Linked DNA regions of Homo sapiens. The protein of the gene in region 1 interacts with the protein of each later gene in a pairwise test. Each region holds a gene or a part of one and is shown in the gene's direction. Other genes may lie near its edges. The genes, in order: CPEB1 and SLC16A7.

Region 1 (4,543 bases):
AGCAATGTTCAATAAACTCTGGTCCCTTTCCTCCCCACTCCAGTCCCTTGTTTTCCCCCTTTTCTGTCCAACCTCTTCTATGTCTCCAGCAACACCTTAAAACAGACCCGACAACTGCCAACCCCTTTTACAATTCTCTAATAGTTTTCCTGCTGTCTGCAGAATAAAGGCCCCTTACAAACCGGGCCCAGGCTTCCCTCCGGCGGTATCAGGTCGCATCATCCTCAGTCCTGGTCAGAGGGAGCCGCTCGGTGCCGTCCTCCCTCTCTGCCTTTGCTTGATCTTCCGCCTGGAATGCCATCTCCGACTCTGCGTTTGCCTGGGGTTTCCGGTCCGCCCCTGCGCCAGGTGCCCTAGGACGCCTGCCCTGGAGCCCTCGCCCTATCCCTTGCCCTATTTCTGTGAAACTTTCTATCTCAGTGTGTCAGGAGCGCCGGAAGCGGTTTCTCCGGAGAACTCCGGTCCAAAGAGGACCAGTGATGTCTTTGGAACTTTCTGGAACTTCCTGACTCTCGCGGCCCCCTCTGCAGCGCACGGAGCAGAGGGTCTAAAGTGAGTGCGCCTCCTGGAGCCCAGGGGCTACAGTTCCGACCAAGGATGCCAGGGCAGGCTCTCGCCCTGGAGAGATCACTGGAAGAGAAGGAGCGCGGACACGAGGCTCTACTGACGAAGCGATCGCCGCCGCTCGCAGGGGCTTGTAAATCGTGCCCTCTTTCGTTAAGAGGGAAACTGAGGCCCAGGGCAGACAGTGACTCGGCAAGGGTCACTTAGGTGATGGCGCGCTCAGGCTTAGGTCTCTGGCCCCCCAGGGGGCAGCTGTGGCTAGCAGCGGCGGCAGTCCCCGCCGGGTTCCGGGTGGGCGGCGGAGCCCTCCTCGGCTCGGCCTGCTAGGAGGGGCGGGGCGCGAGGGGGCGGAGGCGAGGGCCCGGGCGGGGCCGACACAGGTGCTCCGCATCCGGCCGGGGGGCGGCTCCGAGGAGCGGCTCGTAGGAGCTTCATAAGCTGCCGGGGTGCGGGGCTGCGCGCGGCCCGCTGCAAAAATAGTGCCCACGTGCGTGCGCGTCTCTCGCCCGCCGGCTGGCCGGTCAGCCCGTCAGCCCCGCAGGGCCACACCGGCCCCATGGCGTTCCCGCTGGTAAGAGCCACCCGCCGCTCGCCTGGGCGGGGCCGCGTCCCGGCCGCAGTAGCTAACGGTCCGCGCGCAGCCGGGTCCGGCGCCGCGGTACCCCCATCCCCCGCCCCGTGCGGGCGAGTCCCGGGCGGGGCGCGGTCACGTGCCCGCGGGCGTGGGGCCTCGTGGAGGGGTGGAGGGCGAGGGGGGCAGGGAGCCTCCTCGTGACTCAGGGCCTTTGGGCTTAAAGGCGCCGCAGCCCTGCGGGGGCGGCCGGTGGGGCCTCCGAGCCGCACTGCGGCCTCCAGGCGGCCTCGAGCGTCTGTCCAGACGGGAGCTGACCGGACATAAAGGAGCACCGGCGCCCGGAACGTTTCTTTCTCACACTGCCGTCGCACGGGAGACCCGAAGCCGCTGGCGCTGGAAGCTCACGCCCCCTGCGGGTCTCTTTAGCACCCGGCGCGCGGTGGGGGCGCCCGGGCGGGACGGGGCGGGGCTGCTGACGGCGTAGACCCCGTGCTCTGTGGAGAGCCCCACGACGGCGGCGGTCGCGGCACCTTTAAGGTGGAGGGCTCAAGCCCCTCGTGCGGCTTCCCAATCCTGGGCAGGTCACGTGGCTTCACACCTTCGCTTGGCGCCGGAGAGGGAGTCTCGGGGGCGGGGCTGGCCAGGTAGTGTGGCGCGAGGGCGGAAGACTGGCGGGGCTTCGTGCCCGGGAGACCCGCCGGGCTGGCGGCATTGAGGTGGGTCCTGGTCATGGGCGGGAGAGGGTTAGGCTTGCAGGCCGCGGAGGTGGCGTAGGCGGGGAGCGACCCGAGCCCACTCTGGGCTGTGCTGTTCGGACCCTCAGCCTGGCGAGTGGGTGCATGTGGCCTGGCGTTCTGGTCATTCTCCTCAGTGCCGGACGAGGCCAGGTGCCCAGACTCAGGGGCGGCCTCAGGTTTGGCGGAGCAGCGGCTGGGGCCCTGGACGAGTCGCCCCCCGTGATGACGAGCGGTTGGGCGGGCCTGTGCCCGCCTGGAGTCACCTGAGTGTGGGGGGACTCACCCACAAAGGGGTCCTCACCTTGGGGTGTCCCACCCGGCGTCATTCCCCGAGGCTTTTTCATGTCATGGGTTCCTCAGCGGTCGAGTCGACCGAGGCTTTGCTGCCTCATTCCTAGAGGACCCAGGGAGACCAGAAGGCTCTGTGAGCGGCCCCGCGTTGACCCCGTGACCGAGAAAAGCCAGGCAGACGCCTGGGCTCTTGGGCGCTTTCGTGGGCGCGCGCTTATTTTTCGGGGGCACTTTGCTCCCTGCAGCCCTGGCCCCTTGCACCGTGCTCTCAGCTGGGGGAAGAGAGTCGGGAGCCGAATTCGCTCTTAGAAGCCGGGGTGCCTCCCGCCAGGCCCGCCTGGGAGGAGGCCGCGTCTCTCCTCCCCCGCCCCGCGCCTGCAGCCCCGGCCCTGACTGACGCCGCATTTCTCTGGCAACCGCTTCCCTTGGTCTCCCTGGCTACCGCCCAGCCTCCCCGCGCTCTCTCCTGGCACCTGAGTCAACTACTGGGCTGTGTCGTTGGTGGGGAAGAGGGGCAAGTGGGTGGGGTTCCTATTCTGGAAGGCACAGGTGCACCGCCCGCCTCTTGGCTGCCCCTCAGGTGACGGTGCGGTCCCTTGCTAGCGGGAAGAGTGTCTGCTAAGGACAGTTTGCACCCTGAGGCTCATGTTCCCTTTGAGTCTAGGGACACATGCTGGGTTAAAAAATAAAAATAAATTCAAACAGGACCCAACCTTGGAAACCTCAAGTTGGTGATTGTTTTCCTGGTTGGTTTTTTGCATAGTTAGAAAAGCTTGTGGAGCTCAATGGGGCTGCTGGCTGTCGGAAAACCCTGGGGACGGTGTTTTGGGGACTCATCACTGGTCTTTTATTTGTCCCCATTGAGCTGGCTTGGAGCTGAACTGTATTCCCAGAGCACGTTGCTGTAGGAGTTTGGCTTTTTATTTTTTAATATTTATTTATTTATTTATTTATTTTGAGAGGGAGTCTTGCCCTGTCACCCAGGCTGGAATGCAGTCTCGCGATCTTGGCTCACTGCAGCCTCCGCCTCCCGGGTTCAAGCGATTCTCCTGCCTCAGCCTCCTGTGTAGCTAGGATTACAAGCTCGTGCCACCACGCGCGGCTGATTTTTGTATTTTTAGTAGAGATGGGGTTTCAGCATGTTAGCCAGGATGGTCTCGAACTCCTGACCTCGTGATCCGCCCACCTCGGCCTCCCAAAGGGCTGGAATTACAGGCGTGAGCCCCCTTGCCTGGCTGAGTTTCGCTTTTTAAATTTTTTGTCACGGCGATTTAAACTTTGGGTGGCCTGGTAGTGCCTGCTCAGTTTATAGAAGTAGGATTTGGAAGTTGACTACTCTGTGTGTAAGTCAACCTTTGTAATAAAAAAGTACGGCCCGGCCCCATGACTCACGCCTTTAATCCCAGCACTTTGGGAGGCCCAGGCGGGCAGATCACCTGAGGTCAGAAGTTCAAGACCAGCCTGGCCAACAAGGTGAATTCCCGTCTCTCCTAAAAATACAAAAATTAGCCGGGCATGGTGGTGGGCGCCTATAATCGAAGCTACTTGGGAGGCTGAGGCAGGAGAATCGCTTAAACCCAGGAAGTGGAAGTTGCAGTGAGCCGAGATCAGCCACTGCACTCCAGCCTGAACGACAGAGCGAGACTTCGTCTCAAAAAACAAAACAAAACTTGGTTTCCCCCCTCCGAACCGTTTGTCTTGTAAACAACTCCCTGGTCTAGGCTCCCATGTGTGGGAGGGAGGTTGTGCCAGCCTGTGCAGCACATCAGAGGTTGGAGAGCTGATGCCTGTGGTGAATAATCATGGAACCGTTTGCAGTTTGGGTTAGGCCATAGGCGTTTGATACAGGAATGGTTCTATGTGCTTTTCTTTCGCTGTAGTGCACAAACCAGTGCCCATGAAGTAAAAAGTGGAGGAGGAAGATAAAGTAGTAAGACTCCAGGCTCAGCACCAAACTTAACTAGTGACCAAATGATAATAGCTGCCTTAATAAGCATTTTCACTGAGCACAACCATTAGTTTTATTCTTAGTCTTTAAAATGGGTTGCAAACTCAAACCCTATAGGGGCCAGAGGTAACATAAATGAGCAAAGGAGGAGGAAAGAAAGGTAATGGCTTCTGAACTACAGAGTATGTGCCTCTTTGAAAGGAGCAGCCACTAGCTGATTGTTGCTCAGCAAAAATGTGGGCCCAGAGTCGGTGGATCTTTGACTTGCTTCTAAACTGGCTATCTCTATTTTGATGGATCTCCTGACTTTTAAATGTAGCATTAAAAAAATTTTAAACACTATAGACCAAATGTAACATGTCTTTAATGTTGGATTCAACCTGAAGGCTAGTTTGGAATCTGTCTTAAAACATCCGTTTTGGATTTCCC
Region 2 (3,810 bases), on another chromosome or scaffold:
AGGAACATTAGAATGAACAATGGCATAATTAACTTTCTCAAACCACTAAATCTCAATATGAAATTATAAAAAGTAAATATACTATATTTACTACAAATAAATGTTTTTATTTTATTCATACTTATTTTTCTATTTTAATATATATGGTATAATTTTTTAAAAGCACAAAAGAACTCTTCTGAAATTCATGAAGAAAATGGTAGTTTGTTAAAATAGTTATAAATTTGGAAAAAGCTGCCTTAAAATTTTTAGGGTGATAGATGAATAAAATATGTCTAAGTTAAATATTAACAGGGATTTTATATATGCTTGTTTTGTGAAAGCAGTGCTAGATACATACAAATTCTTGGTATTTAGTAATTGATGAAGGCAATATCTAGGTGAGATCCAAGTAAGTACCTGGAATATTGCCTAAAGTCCTCCATTATCGGGGCTAAAACATGCAAATGTTTCATCTCTGGCCATAGAGAAAAGTCAGGAATTGCAGAAATTCTGCTCACCTTTGGTCCTTCTTTTAAAACTGGAAACACAATTCTAGGCCCATTGTCTAGTGGATGAAAATGCTTTTACCTGCCATGTCCACTGTTGAATATAGATCTTACACGTTTACATAGTTTGTTGGAAATAACATCTATGTCTTATCCTGATAATTAGTTTCTAATCTTTTAACCAAAAATAATTGGCACATTTAAAATTATAATCTAATGTGGAAATAATTTTCTTAATGTGGATGCAGATAATTTTTTTTCAGAAACATAGTAACTATTTAGAACAAAAAGTCTGATATAGTCAGTTAATCTAAGACACAGGTATTAGTCCTGTTACTCACATTGCAGTCTTTCTTCAACTGTGGTCTACAGAATGCTTAGCTTCTGAGTCATGAGTCTTGTTAAAAATGAAGTCCTAGGCCTTATCCCAAATCCCCTTTTATCAGGATTTCTGTTGTTAGAGTTCAGAAACTTGCATTTTAACAAGCATCTCTGAAAACAACTTCACTTTATATACAACACAGGGGTTCACTGTTGTAGAAGAAAATCACTATTTGATTTTAAAATACTTAAATTTTCTTACACTATGTGAAATATATTTATAGGAGCCTTTTAGGTTGATGATTATAAAAAAAATTTGGAGAGCAAAGGTGAAAAGACATAGTTTACTGTGAAGTATAATGAGTCTCTCTAGCAAGTAGCTGAAATATTCTGTTCAACACAATGCTAATTGCATTAGCCTAGAGAACACCTAAGATCTGACACATTCATTAGGGCTTAGCAGTCAACCTATTAATCACTACTGTGGGGTCACTGAGTAAGATGGAGCATGTTCAGAGGCCTGGCCTGTGATGTCAGGACTGGAGTCTCTTGTAGTAATTAGTTGGTATCTGGGCTTTGGTAGCAAGGTATTATCTTCCCTTCTGATGTCTGAATTAAAAATGAAACTAATGAAAGGTTCGCAGGAAGGATGGAAAAGAATGCAAATTATGTTTATACCTTACTTCATCCTTAGAATAATGGCATCACATTACAGCAATCCATCTGGATGTCCATATGTTCTCCTGGAGATCTAGCAAATTTTAGCAAATAGGTCAAACAGTGTGGTCACCCCATTAATAAAGCACTAAGTAGAGGTAGAAAACATAATTTAAACTTTCTACACTGTTTAGAAGGACATAGGGTTTTATTTTGTAAATAGTGATTACATAGGATTATCTTTTAGTGCAATATTTGTTTTTGTATTCTATTGAATGATAATCTATATATGGTTACCTCTACAGTTACTGGCGACAGATTTGGACTGCCAGTTTCTGTGAGTACTTTATATGACTTTTCTGGTAAAAATCTATTCTGACTTGGAAGAATCAGCCATTCTGGAGAGAAGAATTGGCTTTGTCTCCATGGTAACTTATTTTTCTGTTTTATGTGAATAGTGACGGCCAATTGTGCTAAAGTAAGGGTGATAGTTTTGTGATGAACTACTTTACATGGGGATTGAACATTAGAACACTGAGCTTATTTTACTGGAGGCCGAGAAGCAAAAGGCTTTAACATAGCAGGTTGGTGGTCATAATGTACAATATGTATTTTTCTATTCTCTTAAAATTTTAAATAAGCTCAATATATTATTCTACATTGTGCCCTAATATTTTGCAGAATGAGGGAGGCTATTAAAATAATTCATGCTGTGCAATATCTTAGCAGCAATAAAAAAAGAAAGTCATTCCATTCCTGTGTTTGAGATAGGTAGAGCTTTCATCTTAGATTTATAAAAAGCAAAAAGTACCAGGTACACTTTGACAGCCCTGTGCAAGTAGGCTGTGGACTTTTTATATCTATGCCATGTTAGACTCTTTTTTTCATCTGTAGGCATAAATATTACTAAAGCTTTCTATGAAATATGGTACAGTGTGGCAGAAACTATTATGCTCACCGTGCATCCATGCACTCCTCTATATTTCCCAGCTTTCCTCCCCTTAGGCTGAGGCCAAGTGACTAGTTCTGACCAATTAAATATAAGCGGAAGGACATCTGTCCCTCTGGACACCTCCTGGACAAGGTGGTTTGATCTGGCATGCATCTTCCCTTTCTCTACAGTTATATAGACTATACTGATCATTACAAACATGAGGGCTTGGTTTATTGTGTAACAACAATATAAGTTATATAAATTATTACATGGGATGAGAACACACTATGAGATAGCCTTAGTCAATTTAGCTTATATTATATCATGAAATGTACAAGTGCTACTCTATCAGATCTCTGTTAGAGAAGAGGTATCCTTTGGTAGCCTAGAGAACACCTAAGATCTGACACATTCATTAGGGCTTAGCAGTCAACCTATTAATCACTACTGTGGGGTCACTGAGTAAGACAGAGCGTGTTCAGAGCATGTTCATTTTTCTCAAATGAAAAAGAAGTTGTGAGTGGATATTATCATTGCCAGTCTTCATGGAATAAAAGTGAGAGGCAAGGACTTCAAAACACAAAGTAGGAATGGAATCATGGCCCTGGAGCTTTCTATGATGAAATCTGTGTGTCTCTTCCAAAACAGGGATGAAAGGGGACAGAGGTCAACAACAGATTGGAAGTGTGCTTAGAGCCTTTGAAATTATTCCAGGACACACTTTCCCTACAGAGGGCTGATAATCTAGTACAAATAATATCAGATAGTTACTAAATGTTATTTTCAACAGAAATTCTAAGAACCTTTATTGAAATCTTTTCTGACTGATATATGTGCCTCAGACAGTGAACCTTTCACTTACTGATGTATAAAAAGAACCTATTTATTAATTTATGACCTGACAAGAATAAGACTATCTTTCCTGATTTTTGGCTTAAAAATTTTCAAAAATATGTTATTATATCATTACTCACTTTATGCAGATGTGTTTTTGTTGTAAATGACAGAAACCTGATACAGATACCCTAAAGCCTAAAGAGAAATGTTCATGTATACAAATCAGAGGAGAAGCAGAGACACCAATGTCTTCCAGCTCAACTAGCACCAGTAATTCTGTTTGTCCAGCATGTTACACTCTCTCTTCTCTCTTCTGTTTCTTCCAGAGGGCAGCTTTGTTTATTTATGTTGATATTCTTCCCCTGGCACAAGGAAGATGTCTACCAACACTTCAGCCTCATATTTCAGCTCAAATTTGACACTAGGAAGACTGCCACTATTCCCTAAGTTATACTTTGACAAATTCTAAGGAAGATTGCTAGGACATGGCCTACTTTGCATTTGCCCTGCAGGCAGTGGGTGAATGAGGGACTAACATTGGCAGCCTGAGTGGAACTATGTATCTGAGATAGG

What was found.
Region 2: the proteins of CPEB1 (region 1) and SLC16A7 interact in a two-hybrid assay, tested with the Homo sapiens proteins (one large-scale study listed by BioGRID and IntAct).

Annotation. Positions count from the first base shown.
Region 1 is NC_000015.10:82,644,448-82,648,990, reverse strand, and holds the start of CPEB1 (cytoplasmic polyadenylation element-binding protein 1), read left to right. Parts: upstream 1-1,627; 5' UTR 1,628-1,854; intron 1,855-4,543.
Region 2 is NC_000012.12:59,707,386-59,711,195, forward strand, and holds part of SLC16A7 (monocarboxylate transporter 2), read left to right. Parts: intron 1-3,810. UniProt on the Homo sapiens protein: Proton-coupled monocarboxylate symporter. Catalyzes the rapid transport across the plasma membrane of monocarboxylates such as L-lactate, pyruvate and ketone bodies, acetoacetate, beta-hydroxybutyrate and acetate.